2 separate regions of the Homo sapiens genome follow, and region 2 is linked to region 1. The links come from fine-mapping of genetic effects on gene expression. A gene starts in region 1. The other region holds a variant in brackets. All regions are shown on one strand. Distances are from middle to middle. Region 1 holds the start of ACSF3 (acyl-CoA synthetase family member 3). Region 2 overlaps ACSF3 (acyl-CoA synthetase family member 3).

What was found.
Region 2: its variant is fine-mapped to the expression of ACSF3 in whole blood (TOPMed, PIP above 0.99).

The regions. Positions count from the first base shown.
Region 1 is chr16:89,089,550-89,097,875 of GRCh38, forward strand. ACSF3 (acyl-CoA synthetase family member 3) reads left to right here and starts at 4,303. Exons shown (of 11, transcript NM_001243279.3): 1 at 4,303-4,447. RefSeq lists a silencer at 4,067-4,476 and enhancers at 4,897-5,086, 6,306-6,475.
Region 2 is chr16:89,114,939-89,123,264 of GRCh38, forward strand. It overlaps ACSF3 (acyl-CoA synthetase family member 3), which reads left to right. Exons shown (of 11, transcript NM_001243279.3): 7 at 5,863-5,975. Among named protein-coding and RNA genes, the nearest start is that of ACSF3, 25 kb to the left of the region's middle. RefSeq lists enhancers at 1-228, 3,583-3,877 and a silencer at 3,583-3,877. The variant C/T (reference allele first, on the strand shown) is at 3,829.

The DNA.
Region 1 (8,326 bases):
GCCAGCTCCCCGCCAAGCCAAGGCCCGGAGGCTGCAGTGGGCAGTGCCACAAGGCTGAGCTGGGAGCCAGGCAAGAGTTCTCTTTGGAGGCAGCTGCATCCCCTTCCATGGGGTCCTGCAGACCTTCTTTCCGCAGAGTTGGGGATCCCAGTGCACAGATAACTTCGTGTGCTGATTTTTAAGTTTGAGGTTCTCATTCAACATTAGACCGTCATACACAATTCCCACGTTTCTATTTGGCGTCATGATTAATGGCTGCAGAGCCGCTCTTATTTGGCCATCTCCTGATTCACTAAAGTCTGTGCTGGGATATCCAGGCTGTTTCCTGATTTGTGGCTGCTGTAAACCACCCTGGCACAAACATCATTGAGGATCCAGCTTTGCAGATCATTTGTTCTTTATGAAGGAGTTGGTCTGGTGTTGCATGCAGAAAAGTTTGGTTTTCAGCAGAGGGGGGTGTCATTTGTTCATTGAATCTCACAGCGATGCAAAGAGAGGCATGTCTGGGGGCAGGGGTGGGGGTAAAGGATGCCAAATTCTGGTTTCAAATCCCAGCTCGGCCGCTTTCTAGGTACGTAAGCATGGACAAGTGACATCAATTCCCCGAGCCTCAGTTTCCTCATTCGTAAAACGGCACAATGCAATCCTTTGCCCGAGAGTCATTGTCACTGCCCTCAGAGCCCAGCTCCATGCACCGCAGAGAGGGGCCCTGGCACTCGTGTCTGAAGTCCTGGCCGTGTGCTCCTGCAGCACTCTTGTGCTTATCACCACACGGCACGTATTTCTCCTCCCACCTGCACCCTCGTGCTGGGAACGTGCCTGAGGGCACATTTGCACCTGCACAGACACTCCTGCCAGCGAGTCTCCTGAAAGGCAGGAGGCCAGGAGAGGCCGTGGGGGTGTTCCGTGTCTGGTATTAGACAGTAGCAGCTGGTGGCACGATGATAAGGCTTGGCCCATGGAGAGTCATCTTGTTCCTCTCCATGACATGCACCTGCTGGAAGGCGACTTCCCGGAATCCTCTTGGTTTATTTAGGGAACAGGGGCAAGAATCCAGCTGAAAGTGGCCGAGTTCACGTGGTCACCTGGAGTGTTTCCTTTCCTCTTCCTCTAAAAACTATTTCATAGTGTAGTTTAACTTTTATACTTATCAGTTGTACGTCCACAAAGTTTAAAGAACTACCCTCCCCTTCCTGCTCACCAGAGGTGAACCTTTGTTCTGATTCTCTTGGTGTTTACCCCCTGGAGGTTCCTGTGGTCTCCTGCCAGGCCTGCCCAGGCCACACCACACACCTTCCACCCCGGGTCCCTCCCGTCGTCTGCGATAAACTCGTTCGATCAGCGGCAGTTTTGCATGCTGATGGTTACACTGTAGATGTTGAAATGATCGTAGTTTAGTAAATGCTATGGACAGCGGAGCCTCCTACAGCAACATGATCACGTGCCCTTTGCTGGCAAACACATCTTCCTGTGTTCCCAGTGTTTAATCTCTGCCTTATTTTTCTTGATTAGTTTTCTATGTATTGATCATCTATCCCTAAACTTTGCTTGCATTGTTCAAGTCTCCTCTCAACATGGTAAACACACAGGACACTCTGTCCACCATCTTCCCGCGGGGGGATTGCCCCTGCCTGCCAGGCCAGGACTCCCGGGAGTCACAGGAAACAAGGCCAGAGGGGAGGAGGGCGGGGCTCGGGGACCTGGTGGCCACAACAGGGCTTGGGCAGGACCCCCTGTGGGTTCTGAGCAGGATCCCACTCAGGTTTTAATGGGGCTACTCCAGCCACTGTTGGGTTCTTCATGAATCCAGTGAGGACTCCTTTAGGAAACAAGGCTTTCCTGGTCTGGGTGGTTACAGCAGCGCTGGTGGGACAGTCTCTGACAGAATTTGCAGGAGAAACCAGTAGGACTCAATGTGGTGTGGGAGGGAAGCAGGGAGCCATAGACTGAACCCCAGGATCGAGGGTGAGATGCAAAGTGTGAGGGTGGGGGCGCTGCTGCGGGGGAGACCTGAGCTCCTCTGGGGCCACATCGGGGTCTGATGTCTCTTGGATGTCCCAGTGAGATGCCAGGTGGGCACTTAGGACCCTCCCTGTCCACATGTTCTAAACTACATTGACGTCGTCTGCCTGGTTGGTGCGGCCACTTTCACTCCCTGCGCTGGATGTTCTGCAGCCCTTCGTCTGCTAATGTCCACGAGTTTACCTGACAGCTGACTTCTCTCTGTTTTCTCTGCCCTCCCTTCCTGAAACTACCGTATTTAGCATATTGGATGCCTGCCTGAGCCCACTGATTTTTTTATCTTTCCTCTCCTGTTTTTCATCTCTCGGTCTTTCTGTTCTATTTCTAGGAGACGTCCTTTAGCCCTTCCCTTAGGGTTTTTACTCAGGCTGTTGTATTCTGACCCCTCCAGCCCCCCTTTATGTTACTGGAACGCTCTTTCTCGGGGCATCTCGCTCTGGACTCATGGGGGCTGTCGCTTCCCTTGTCTCCCTGAGGGTATTAACAGGGGGTGGTTTTGGGGGTCTCTTCACTCTGCACAGCCTGGCTGCCTGCAGTTGTTCTGCTGGTTGTTTCAGCCCACGTCTCTCTGGCTAGAGGCTGTCCTCCAATGTCTGCTAATCCCTGACTGCTCCTGCTTCCCACCTGCCACTATGATGCTGACCAGAGCCGAGGCACAGATGGGACCCCTGCTCATAGGATGACTGGGCCATTTCTCGGAGACTGCACCCTCCCCCCACTGCCACCCTCACAGAGCCATGGCCAAGGACCACGGGAGCTGTCACCCTGTCCCAAGTCCTGTCTCTAGGTGGGTGACGCAGCCTGAGCTCTTCAACTTCCCAGGGATAGAAATTTGCGCACACACGTCCTGGGGCTGAATCCTGATGTTAGACGCCCTCCTTACTCTTCCTACTGCCCTCGTCGGAAACACCATTCAGCCTGCTGAGTCCTGGAAGCAGACAGAATTCTGACACCAGATCAAGCCTGTCCCAGTGGCAGAGGGTTGGACTTGCTTTTTCTGCATGATACCTAGCAGGGTGGCAACCAGAGGCACTAGAAGTTTGGGTTTGTTCTCCCACGCTCTGTGTTACAAACTTCCCCCAGATCCAGCTCCTTCCTCCCAGGAAAACCATCCTCGGGCTCCTGAAGTGCCCTTTCCTGAGCTTTCCAAGGACACAACTGCTGCCCCAGCAATCATCACAAGAGAGGAAGATGGGCATGGAAAATAATACACTTACAAAAAAACTGTGCAAGGTTCTGCAGATAATTTTTTTTTTTTTTTGAGACAGTCTCACTCTGCTGCCCAGGCTGGAGTGCAGTGGCGCAATCTCAGCTCACTGCAGTCGCCACCTCCCAGGCTCAAGAGATTCTCCTGCCTCAGCCTCCCGAGTAACTGGGATTACAGGCACCTGCCACCACTCCCGGCTAATTTTTGTATTTTTAGGAGAGACAGGGTTTCACCATGTTGGTCAGGCTGGTCTTGAACTCCTGACCTCGTGATCTGCCTACCTCGGCCTCCCAAAGTGCTGGGATTACAGGCGTGAGCCATCACACCAGGACGGTTCTGCAGATAATTTGTACTACTGTTTGCCAGTACATGTCTTTGTGTTATTAGTATTCATTTTAGGGGAAAAACCCTCAAATTTCAGCCAACTGGACTTTGTGTTTGGCTTTAAATGTTTTCCGCCACTGTCCATCCAACAGTCTCGCTTCATATTCGTATCCTGGTTCCCAAGTCCCTTCGAGGAGAGATTCTCAAATGCGGTCCGTTTAAAATCACCCAAGAAATACAAAAATTAGACAGGCATGATGGCGGGCGCCTGTAGTCCCAGCTAATTGGGAGGTTGAGGCAGGAGAATCACTTGAACCCGGGAGGCGGAGGTTGCGGTGAGCCGAGATCACACCACTGCACTCTAGTCTGGGCGACAGAGCGAGACTCCATCTCAAAATAATAATAATAATAAGAAAAAGTAACAACAATAATAATAATAATAAAATCACCCAGGAGCTCAGCGTGCAGACCCCCAGCCGCAAAGCCCAGAGAGCCCCTTTTGGGAGGACGGGGCGAGGCCCAGCAATCCGCGTTGGGAGTGGTCCCGCGCGCCGTTCTGATCTGGGCAGCCCTGGGCTAGCGGAGACCACGGCGCCTTGCCTCGGCCACGGCTCACGAGACGCCCGCGGCCCCGACCCCGCCACGACGGGACGGGCGGGACAGGGGAACACGCGCGCCCGGAACCCGCCGCCACGGCGCCGCGCCGGGGGGACGCGCTTGGGCGACGGACGCGCCGCGCCGGGGAAGCTGTTGGGCGCCGGAACTGGTCCGGCCCGACTCACGACCCCGCGGGACCCGGCCGGAACCCGGCCCGACCCCGGCGCGCGCGCGGCGGAGGACGAGGAAGAGTTGTGGCGAGGCAGATCCTGCCCCGTGGCCGCGGCCGTCTCGTAGGTGCGGGCGGCGGGGCCCACGGGACCGCGGCGGGGTCGGCCGGGCGCAGAGCTCTCGGGGGCGCGGGCTCCGGCGCCCGCCCCTGGGTCGCAGCTGGGCTTGAGCCGTGGCCCGTGGCGCGGTCGCTTCCCCGCGAGCCGCCTGGGGCCGGGCGTCGGCCTTCCCGGGACGCCGAGCCTCTCGTGTCCGGTGGGGAGCGGGGCCCCCGCGCGGGGTGCGGGGAGAGAAGCTGTGCGGACGCCGGGCCCGGTGATACCGTCGAGCCGGCGGGGTCCGTGTTCAGGCATCCTCAGAACGAATCGTCTTTGGTTGTGTTTGGAATAAATTCACTTCCATTTCTCATTGGGCTTCAGAAGTCACCCTTGAAGTACTCCCCGTTTTAGTTGTTTGCTGCGTGCACCTTGCTGGGCGCGTGGGGCACAGGTTCACAGCCGGCCTAGCCCCTGAGGGCATGTAGATCTATGAGCAAGCAATGGAGACGTGCGGCCGGCCGTGAAGTATTTGGAAGGTACTGCAGGCAGCCCATTCCCTGGAGAGAGGGAAGGTTTAAAGGGGTGAGGCCCGGTGCAGTCAGGAGTTGATGTTGCTGTCCTGAGTCTAAATTCCACCAGGCAGGCCAGGTGCAGTGGCTCATGCCTGTAATCCCAGCGCTTTGGGCAGCAGAGGCAGGAGGATCACTTGTGGCCAGGAGTTCAAAGCCAGCCTGGGCAACATGGTGAGACCCCTATCTCTACAAAAAAATGTAAAAATTAGCTGGGTGTGGTGGCGTACACCTGCACTTCCAGCTACTGGTTAGGCTGAGGCACGAGGATTTCTTGAGCCCAGGAATCGGAGGCTGCAGTGAGCCATGACAGCACCATTGCACTCCAGCCTAGGTGGCAGAGCAAGACACTGTCTCAATAAATAATAAAACTGAAAAAGAAGAGGTGATATTTGAACTGGGCTTGGAAGAATGATTAGGAATTTGCTAGAAAGGGAACACGTTTAGAGATAGGAACACGAATTGTGTCTGGGGCATAGTTGTTGCTTTCCCATCCTGGGAGGACAGACATTCGTGTTAGGGCCCAAGGCTGAGACCTTGTTGAGGAGGGGGTTCACATGGTGGACCCAGGAGCACGGGTGTTACTACCGGTGGACCCTGGGGACCCTGCGAGCTTTGTAGCGTGAAGCCTGGCTCAGGCTGGTGTCCTCTCCGCAGGTGTTGGAGGACATAAGATGAGGCTTCCCTTGCTCTTGCTCCTTTGGCTCTGAACCATCTCCTCAAGGCAGACAGAAATGGCGGATTAAACTGTGGGCTTGGGATAGTTGTAAGTGTCACCTTTCCAGATGGCATTTTTAAAATAGTATTTTTCTTCCTAAAATGGATATGGGTTTCAAGTGTATTTTTCCTTTTTGGTTTTTTTTATTTGAATGTACTGCTCATGAATGCAATGTGAATGTCTGTTACTTAAAAATGTAATTTTGAAAATAACCCTCCAAACCACAGGTGTGATGCTGAAACGCATCCTGCCCCGCAGGCCGAGCACAGCCCTCCTCTGCCCCACGCTCTCATCGGGGCAGCCGACAGGAGGAAGTGCCGGCATCCACTTCAAACACAAGGTCTGGGGGGGCGGGGGTGTCAGGTGTGGTGGTGAACAGGTCAGGTGTCGTTTTATTCATGTTGAAAGCAGCCCTTCATTTGAATGCGAGTGTCATTCTCATCTAGTAATTTTTGTTGCGAGGCTCCATGGGGAGCACCCTGCTGAGCACGGCGCGGCCGTTTGTCTTCTGCCTGGCCTGTGCCGGGCCATTCGTACATTCTCACGTGAAGCCTGTGAGGCAGGTCTTGTTACTGTGCCATCTTAGCGGTGGGAAGTGAAGGGCTAGGCCAGTGAGGAAATGAGGACAAAGGCAGCAGCCGTTCAAGTCGAAGCCTGTGGTGACTAACTCTGCCATTAACCAGCACTCCAGTTAGGAGGGAAAAGATGCATCCCGCTGCGCTGCATGTGTGTTCCCGAGAAGCCCCAGTGCCTTAGTGGTCTGATCTCAGAACCTGATGGCTAGAACACCGAGAGGTCCTGCCTCCCTCCCCGAGGGCTGGAGAGCCACTGTTTTCAGTGGTTCCAGTACGCCTTCACCAAGGAGGCTGTCCTGGCTCAGGCACCTTTCTCAGCTTCTGACTAGAGTCCTTGCCCAGCCACGTGGTGACGCCGCTGACCTCGGGTTATCAGGGTGCTGCGTAGCAGGGGTATGAAGCTGGCTGAGGGTGGAAGCCCCTGACTGAACTGCATTTGTCTGGTGGGCAGTGTCCCTCCACACTGTGCTCCTGGTGGTGATGGGGAGCCCCACGGTAGAAGGGGTCCCAGTGGTTGAAAGGTGAGGTTCTCTCTGAGGAAGCTGGGGTGCCTCTGGACCGGGAGGTGTGCAGGAAGACCGCGCACAGCCATCTGCCCTGAGTAGGCTCTGTCTGCGTGTTCGAGGCAGGGCTCTGATCCGATGACCGTGAAGATTCAACCTCTGTGCTGAAGAGAACTGATGACTGGGCACTTCATTGTCCCAAGCCTGAGGGACTGAAAAGCTGGTTTGATGGGGCTGGTTCCGTTTTCCACATGCTTGGTGGGAGAATAAATCAGCACCTCGTTGGAGGGGACTTTGTCAGTATTTCTCAAAATTAAAGATGACCCAGCAATGTGACTTCCCGGCATCTGTGCCCTAGACACCCCGAGTGAACACAGCTGTAGGTGCCAGGACTCCCCCCTTCCCTCGGCCGACTCTGGCTAGGCCAGGCCCTTCTCACCCTCCATAGGAAGCCTCCCCACCAGGCCCCCGTCCGTTCCTCCTGCCCGTGGCCTCTCCTCATAGCGCGTGGGCTCTCTGGGAGCTGGGACCATGTCACACGGGGCCAGTCACATCTGTCACCTCCCAGGGGCTGGTGGCAGGAGTGCCCACCCACAGGCAGCGCTCTGGATTCCGCGCAGGAGAACAGCAGTTTCTTCTCAGCCTGCACTTTGAGTTTGCCCAGCCCAGCTGTGCACGTCAGCATCACCAGCTCTGCTGAGCTCTGGGTTTTGTGGGGAATCCACTCTTATTCTTCCGTGGCTTCGCCCTGCGGGGTGACTCAGGAATTTGTAGAAATGCCAAAAGGGGGGCTGTGCTCTGGTAGTGTGTGCTGTGTGTGCTCAGCGTGTGGTTAGCGTGTGCTCAGCGTGTGGTTACCGTGTGCACAGCACGAGCTTGAACTCGCTTTGTCAGAACTCGGTTCTTTGTGGTCTGCAGAAACCTTTTCTGAGCAGCAGCTTTAGTTAGAGGGAAGCCGTCATCCCCCTTTTATGTGCTTCTGTCATATTGAGAAACAGCTACACACAATGACAGGCACCTTCTATATTGAGTGAGTGTCGCCGGCCGTCCTAGTGCTCCGCTCCTTAGCACCCCAGAAAGCACCGTCCCCTGCTCCGAGCACCCAAGGCACTCCCTGTGGCTCTCAGCAGCGGAAGTCTGGCCTCGGGGCCGTAACCCAGAGCACCCAGTGCCCAGTCGGTTTTCTGTGTGTGGATTCTCCTTGTTTCTGTGCCCTCACACCTGTAAAGCAGTGCAGGATCGGTTGGAAGTGAGGAAGGAAGCGTGGTGGGGCCGCCCTGGTTTGCTGCTTTCTGAAGCTGGCACAGCCCACGTGCCGATCTCGTGTCTTGTGTCTGGTGAAGCCCAGTTGTTTTCTTGCCATTCTCTGGGTTTCTCTATGGTAGCAGAGTCCAGGTGTGTGGGCGGACCAGCCACTGCCCTGCCTCTGAACAGCTGTGGAGGGCTTCTAGAACATGGGTGCCTCGCGTCAGGAGATGATGTGGCCTGCAGGACTGACCGTTTGGTAGGATTCAGAGAAGACTCACACAGGACGTCCAAGCA
Region 2 (8,326 bases), 25 kb after region 1:
CACCTGTCTTCCTTCTCTAGATGTGGGCTCCTGATACCGGGCCCCTCTTGTCCAGCCTTCCCTAACACATCCCATTCTGACTTTCATCTGACCCAACCATTTGAGCCCTGGGTCCTCCGCTGGGACTTCTGGGAACAGAGCCCACAGCTGGGGGGCCACCCTGCTGCTTTCTGCGCAGCCCTTCCAGTCTGTCTAGAGTAGAAGAGAGATCTCAGTGCAGACTTAAAGTGAGACCATCCCGCACATCTGTCTGTGCAGCTGCTTACCTGCAGACCCAGTAAAAATTCACCCCTCTGGCGTGCAGCTCTGTGTGTCTTAAGAAACATCATCACAGTCAAAATAGAGAAGGGTTCCTCGCCTCAGAAACTCCCTTCCTAGTGCTCAGCACCTCCTCCACCCCCGAGGCCTGGCCCCTTGTTCCTGTTTCTCTTCTTGTGGTTTTGCTTTTTCTGGGAGGCCACGTGGCTAAATCCTGCAGGACGTGGCCTCTGAGCCTGTCTGCTTCCGCCCGGCTTCCGCCCACAGTCAACTGCCTGTGCTGTGTGCGTCAGAGCCCGCGCCTTTCCCTGCTGAGTGGCATCCGTGGTGTGGGTGCGGCACCGCTTGTGACCCTGTTTTAAGCAATGACACGTGAGATGTTATCAACATTTGTGTGCAGGTTTCTGTGCGAACGTGGTTTTTTATTTCACCTGGGCAGATACCTAGGAGAGAGATTGCTGTGTTGTCTGAAGCTTTCAAGCTGTTCTCCAGAGCGGCTACACCATCCCCTTCCCCCTGCAATGGGTGGGAGGTCACGAGCACCTGCTGCTCCAGCGGGCGGTGGTGGTGTCTCGTTGAGTTCATGATTCTCTCATGATGGGTGGCGTTGAGCACCTCTTCCTGTTCGTGTCATTCCGTTTTCAACTGGGGCCTTTGTTTTCTTGAGTTTTGAGAGCTTTTAAAATTCGGGACCCAAGTGTCAGCTGTGCGATTTTAAATATCATCTCCCAGCTTGTGGTTTGTCTTCCCATTCACCTAACAGCGTCTTTAAAATCAGGAGTTTTAGGTTTTGGCCCGGTTTATCAATTTGTTTTGTGAATTGTCTGATGTCATATCTAATAAATCCTTGCGTAGCCCAAAGTCACAGAGAATAGTTTCAGCTCTTACGTTTGGGACCATGATCCATTTTGAGTTAATGTTTGTACATAGTGCGAGATACGGACCACAGTTCTTTTTTAGTGTGTGAATGTCTAACTTTTTAGCACTGTTCGTTGAAAAGACTCCCTTCTCCATCGAACAGCCCTTTGGATCTTTGTTGAAAGTCCGTCGACTCCTGAGGGGTCGGCTCCTGGGCTCTGCTCTGTCCCATTGCTTTCCGTGTGCCCTTTGGCTCATTCCATGCCTGCTTGGTTCCTGGGACTCTAGGGTAAGCGTGGACATGGGGGTTCAGGCCCAGGCAGGGACCAGCTGGTGCCAGGCAGCGATACGGTGCTGGGGCCTGCAAGGTGAGTGTGAGGGCTGGCTGGCTGCTGGGCTGGGAGGAGGAGAGACTGTAGGCTCACGCCCCTTTGCTGGGCCTGGGGAGCCATGGGGGCTGTTAAGTGTATTCTGAGTGTAAAGTCTCGGTTTGGCTGGGGCATCCTGAGCAGAATGACAGGGCCATGGCAGCGAGATCCTCAGCTGCCGTGCAGAGCTGCCAGTGGGGTGGCCGCACAGAGTGCAGTGCCTGCTGCAACAGTGCCCAGGGCAGTGGGCGGGTGGGGGCATGTTGTGAAAAGAAGTCAGTGTGAGTGATGAGAAATACATCCTAGTCTCAGACCCCAGGAAACCGCCGTCAGTGCTGGTGGCCCCTGCCCTGGGCCGGCTCCCGCGTTAGTCTCAGACCCCAGGAAACCTCCACCTCCGTCAGTGCTAGCGGCCCCTGCTCTGGGCTGACTCGCGCATCTCCACGATGGCTGCGGCACCAGCTGTTTCTTCGGTGGCTAAAGCTCTCTGGTGGAAATAAGATGGGGACCTTGAAATCAAATGTGACTGGTCTGTTGAGTCTCTGTCCTTATCGTTGTCCTTCTTAGTAGGATGTGCTGGTTTTGTCCAGTGCCACCGGCCACAGTCACCACGTAATATGGACGGAATGAGCAAAGCCCGGCTCGCTGAGGCTGCAGGCTGCAGGCAAGTGAGGACTGAAAGGGTAACGGGCTCTGGGCTTTGTCCTCTCTTTGTTCCGGACATGTGAGCAGGACAAGTTCTGTGTATTCAGAATCTGTCTGCACAGTTTGTAGTTCATGATGACTGTTCATCCACAGCATTGCTTTGTGGGCGTCCTCTCTTTTGATCTTCTCGAAACAGCCCCTGCGATGGGGTCATATTTTGCACTCACATACAAGAACCCATGAGCCTGCCCACGGTCACGCGGCTGGTGAGTGATGCACTTCCCAGGAGCACGGTGACCTCTTCAATGGCCCTCACTAGAGAAGATGGACAGTGCCCCCCTAGCCTTTTTTACTGGAACAGATACAAGGCTGAGAAGCTGAAATCAGGAGCAGCCCAGGGACCACTGTCTACACCGAGGGAGTCATGAGCAGCCCAGGGACCACTGTCTACACCCAGGGAGTCAGGAGCAGCCCGGGGACTGCTGTCTACACCGAGGATGTCAGGAGCAGCCCAGGGACCACTGTCTACACTGAGAGCGTCAGGAGCAGCCCAGGGACCGCCGTCCACACCAAGAGCGCCAAGGAGCAGCCCAGGGACCGCCGTCCACACCGAGGGCGCCAAGGAGCAGATAGTAGCCCAGAGACCCAGGGGAGGCTCAGCTTCCCCACGCTGGAATCAGAACTCCTAGGCGAACAGGAAGGAGCCCCAGACAGATGGCACAGGGAGAGGAGTCCCCGGCTGAGGAGGGGGATCCAGAGACCCTGAAGCTTCAGGGTTATTGGGCAAGAAACCTGAGTGCACCAATCCCCGAGTCTTCAGCTACCGACGGCAGGTTCCCTCGGGTGCCGGGGATGCTCCCTCTTCTCTAAGGCAGAGCCCACAGTAGGTTCCCTCAGGCGCCAAGGACATTCCCTCTTCTCTAAGGCAGAGCCCACAGCAGGTTCCCTCAGGCGCCAGGGACGTTCCCTCTTCTCTAAGGCAGAGCCCACGGCAGGTTCCCTCGGGCGCCGGGGACGCTCTCTCTTCTCTAAGGCAGAGCCCACGGCAGATTCCCTCGGGCGCCGGGGACGCTCTCTCTTCTCTAAGGCAGAGCCTGACGGCAGGTTCCCTCGGGCGCCAGGGATGTTCCCTCTTCTCTAAGGCAGAGCATACGGCAGTTTCCCTGGGGCGCCGGGGACGCTCCCTCTTCTCTAAGGCAGAATCAAATATCTGTGATTTTATCCTTGCCTTTAAATCACCAGCAGTGTGAGTTCTTTGGTTTGGAAAAAAGTAAGTAAAGTCACCTCAGCATTAAATCCAATATGCCCCACAAAAACTCCAAAATGCAGCCTCCTGAGCCATGTTTCTAGAGGGCACGGTGGAGGAGAGCTTTCCTCACTCTCAGGCTCTAACCCCCACCCTGGTGGCCATGGCCTTGACCCTTGGGTCGGCTCCAGCCACAGGCTCTGAGCTCATGCTTGGCCTCGCTGCTCAGTGCACTGTCCGTGCTCGGAAGAGAGAGAAGCTGGGTGGAGGGTGAGCTCTGTCGTGTGTTATGGTTACAGGCCTGCTCCGTGCGGTTCCTGTGGAGGGAGATGAATAATTCATGGCCGACCACTGCTGGGCCTCGTCACACTCTAATTGGAGGTTGAGCTCAGAGGTGCTCACGGCTCCTGGGCCACTCTGTGGCATTGACAGGGAGCTCCAGGGCCTCATTGG[C/T]GGTTTCCGTTCCCTGGGTCCCAGTCCCCAGTCAGAGTTATCAGGGAGGGGCTGGCTGACAGCGATTTTAGAGGTGGGCTGTGGCAGGAAGGCAGTGCCCCCCACCTGCCTGCAGCTGCGCTCCCATCTACATTGGCCTTTGCGGGGCCAGCCTCTGTCCACTCTCTTGAGCTCTCATGTCCACACTGTCACATGCCCGGGGCACAGCGAGCGGCACCTGGAGTGTGGGGACCCCTCCCTCGAGCTCTCACGGGTGGCACCTGGAGTGTGGGGGCCCCTGCCTCAAGCTTTCATGGGTGGCACCTGGAGTGTGGGGGCCCCTCCCTGAAGCTCTCACGGGCGGCACCTGGAGTGTGGGGGCCACTCCTTGAGCTCTCATGGACAATACCACTGCTTGGCTGCTGCAGAATCCAGACACCATCCCAGAGCCTCTTCAGCCTCTGCAGATGGTGTGGGACGGCCACACGGCCTCCCCACCTGCGGCCCCCGCCCCTACCCCAGCCGTGCCGTGTCCTTGCGCTGCGTCCCCGCCCCAGTAGAGGCATCACCAGGAAGAGGCGAAAGGCCGCCTGTGATGGTCCTCTTCTTATGAAACGCCCAGAACAGAAAAACCACGGACGCGGACAGCAGACCTGGTGCCAGGTCTGGGGAGGGAGGGTGTGGCGGTCGTGGGCTGTGCGGGAGTTCTGACTAGGGGAAGTGGGGGGCTGTGCAATGTGTGTGCGGAACACCGCCGTGCCGCGCACTGAAATGGGAAGTCATGTGTTATGCGGGTTTCACCCCCATTTAAAAATCTTCAGAAGCAAAACATAAAGGAGGAGAAAGGATGGAAGAAAGGGGGCTGAAGCTGGCCCCGCCACACCCCCCATAGTGGTGACACGGGTTTCTGACCAGAGTGGAGGTTCGGGGCGTCTGCATACCTGGAACCACAGAGAACTCCCGAGGTGACACTCCGCACACCACACTAGCCCGGCTTCGCCTGCAGGACCCCAGGTGTGGACAGGCCCAGCAGGATCAGCAAGACCGAGCCGGGCACCGACAGCCCCTCACCAAGCGTCTGGAGGCCGGGACGCCCCATGGATTGCAGAGTTCACTGCACTGACCCTCGATGCTGACCCTTGAAGTGCCGGAAATCTCAGCGTGGACTCAGACATGATAAGCGTTCAGGCACTCCCCTGACGCAGGCCAGGGCAAAGGCCTCACGCCCCGGGATAGACAGGAAGTCCCACGTCTGCTCTGCCCCTAGGTCATGCCCGTGCTGACGCCACATCGCCAGGGCCGCACTCCATGAGCAGCCTCTGCCGTCCCACCAGCAACCTAAACCACAGGCAGAGCGAGGCTGCGGCAGCCCTGCGTGTGCCGGCGGGACACGTCTCGCCACCTGGGCTCTGCCCCCACCCCGGCCAGTGTAAGATATGATTTTAGCCACGTTGAGACTGTGCAGGTGGGATGGATACACTGAGCAAATCATGGGTGTCTAATAAATGAGCCAGTACAAAGTGTGGTCCACCTGCCATGCAGAGTTCAGGACAGCCCCTCCTGGGGACATAGGGCAGATCCTGCCTTAGCCCGTCGTGTGCCGGGCACACACAGGTCCCCTCATCGTGGACAGCCCCGGGGCCATCAGGGCAAGGCGCCAGCCCTCCCTGGCCAGCAAGTGTGTAAAAGTGGGAATGACACCAGAATCTGTGGGCAGCTGTGAGGCTTTGGGAAGTAACTGGGAAAGTGATGTATGAGGGGCCCAGGGCAGGCCAGGCCCAGCGTGCCACGTGAGTGCCTGCTGTGCCACATGGCCATCACTGTGGCATCGGCTGGGCCTGAGCACACCGTGCTTGCCAGCCACGTATCGTGTGGCTTTTCACCTGCTGGTGCCTACACCATCTTCTCTCTGGGTCACAGGGCACGTCGCTCCCTCCACACAGACTCCCGCACGTGGCACACGGGAGCTCAGCGGGATCCGAGCTCAGTGTGTGCTTCTCTCCTCCAGGTTCCTCTCACTCCAGCCTCCCCTTCAGTGTTTCTCCTCTCCTGTAGGTTCCGTGGGGACCCCACTGCCTGGAGTACAGGTGCGCATTGTCTCAGAAAACCCACAGAGGGAAGCCTGCTCCTACACCATCCACGCAGAGGGAGACGAGAGGGGGACCAAGGTAAGCCACTCTGCTCTTGGCAGGTGGGCGGCCGTGTGTCCAGTCTAGGCCCCCCAGGGTGGTTACACTGGTGCATCTTTCCCCTGGAGGCAGACTCCCCTCCACGCAGGGGACCAGCCCCCTGGACACTGCAGGTGCTGGCTGGTGTTGCAAGGGCACTGGCTGGTGTTCTGGGCCCTGCCTGCTGCGTGTCCGTCTGTGCGTTCACAGAGCAGTGGGCAGAGGGAGCCCAGGGCGGAACGCCAAAGGGACTCACACCCGGGCACACAGCTCCTCCCAGGGGCCCTGTCCACGGGGACAGGCTGACGTGGGCCATGATGGCCTTGGCTAAGCGGAAGAGATAAAGAGCAGAGGCCGTTGTTGTTGATGGGAATCTGGTTAGAAATATGAACTGGCCTGACCCTGGCACCCGTCCTGAGGGGACGCTGACCACAGGCCCCCATAGTAGGTGTGGGGAGATTCACGGGGCCCTGCACGCGGAGGTGGGTGCCTGTGCAGTGCTCTGTGGCTGCCTCCTTGTCTTGTGCGTTATTCTAAAGCTGACAAGGGTGAACAAGAACAAAGGACATTGTCTCATTTCTGTGAGGATTTTAACATGAGAGTCTGCTCATCACACGTGAACTCATCACAGAGAAAGGTTTAGGGATTATGGGGAAATGGAATCTTGATTTAAAAGGAAATTATTTTCTCTGAAGCCAGTATCCACACCTGATACCACACATGATTGACTGTGTTGCCCTGAGGTTTTCAAAGATCGAGGGATCCTGAGTCTCATCTCTGTGCATTTCCTTCTCTGTGACACCATCTTGGCCCTCACGGGCACAACTGAGCTCCCTGTGCAGAGGCTGAGGGGCCGTGGGCCTTGCTCTCGTGAGTGAACAGCCACACGCCCTCCTTGTACCTTGGTTTCCACACATGACCACGTGAGGGTTGGAGCGATGGTCGTGGTTGGACGTTTTAGCTCCAGCAACCAAGTAGGATGTGGGTGGCTTTCAGTGTCATTAAATGACACTGAAAGGTGCAGTGGCCGCACCTTGTGTGGAGGGCCACACGGCGTGTCCCGCCTGGCCTGGGCCCCCCGCAGTGGGCTGTTATCCCCCGTGGCCCTGAAGTGGGTATTCTGTTTCCCCGTGGAAACCTCTCACCTGGGGCCACCTGCAGTGGCCGCACCTTGTGTGGAGGGCCGCACAGTGTGTCCCGCCTGGCCTGGGCCACCCGCAGTGGGCTGTTATCCCCCGTGGCCCTGAAGTGGGTATTCTGTTTCCCCATGGAAACCTCTCACCTGGGGCCACCTGCAGTGGCCGCACCTTGTGTGGAGGGCCGCACAGTGTGTCCCGCCTGGCCTGGGCCCCCCGCAGTGGGCTGTTATCCCTGTGGCCCCCACAGAGCCATGGGGCAACTTGCTGAAACCCACCTGGGTGGCTGCCCCTTGCTATACCCACCTCCCCTGCCCTCTGTAGGGCCCCAGCCCATGCTGTTGTCCTGACATGCCTCTCCTGGGATTCCTGCCTCTGCCCTGCTGGTACTAGGCTGCTGGCCACACCCCACATCTCAGGTTCCTGAATACACCGGCCCTTCCTGGCTCTCAAGTCTGTGCCCTGCAGTGCCCCTGCCCCCAACTCGAGGACCTCCCAGCTCAGCCAGTTCCAACCCTGTCTGCAGGGACGGGGCTCAGCCTGTGCCTGGGTTGGGGACACCATCTAGTCAGAAATGTCCCCAGCAGAGAGCAGAACGTGAGTGGCGTGTGGAGGAGTGAGACGCCCCGTGGCTGTGCAGCCCTCTCCAGGTGTCAGTCAGCTGACACTCCTGCCTCTGAGCACCTGCTCTGCCGGAAATGGCAGAAATGTTGCCAGAGAAAGGGGCGGAGCGGGGGTGGGGAGCATTTCTGTCTTAAATTAAAACAAAACTTAACTGCTTCACACCTGCATTGGCTGCCGCGCCACCTGATTGCTCCTGCCTGAGTTTCTTTAATTATTTGTGTCTGCTGGTTTCTTCCCTGAAGCAGTCTTGAAATAGAAGCAGCAGCCTCAGCTACCTGGGCACCCTGACAGTCAGAGACACCGCACAGGGGCCTCTGCGACAGGCATGCAGGCAGACCCTGCAAGGTGAAGCCGCACAGATGCTCTGGGGCTGCTTAAATCTCAGCGTACGGGGGGTTTGCATCTGCTGACAGCAGGCCCGGGAACATTTCCAGTTCAGCCAAGGAGTCGGTGCAGCAGGTGGAGTACAGCTGCCCTGCGGGGCCTGGCTCCACCAGGGGCCAAGACCCTTCGTGGGGAGGAGCACAGCCTGAGGGCCTCAGGGTTTGTGCCCTCCGACACCTGAGATTCAGGGCTCCCAGAGGGGTGGGT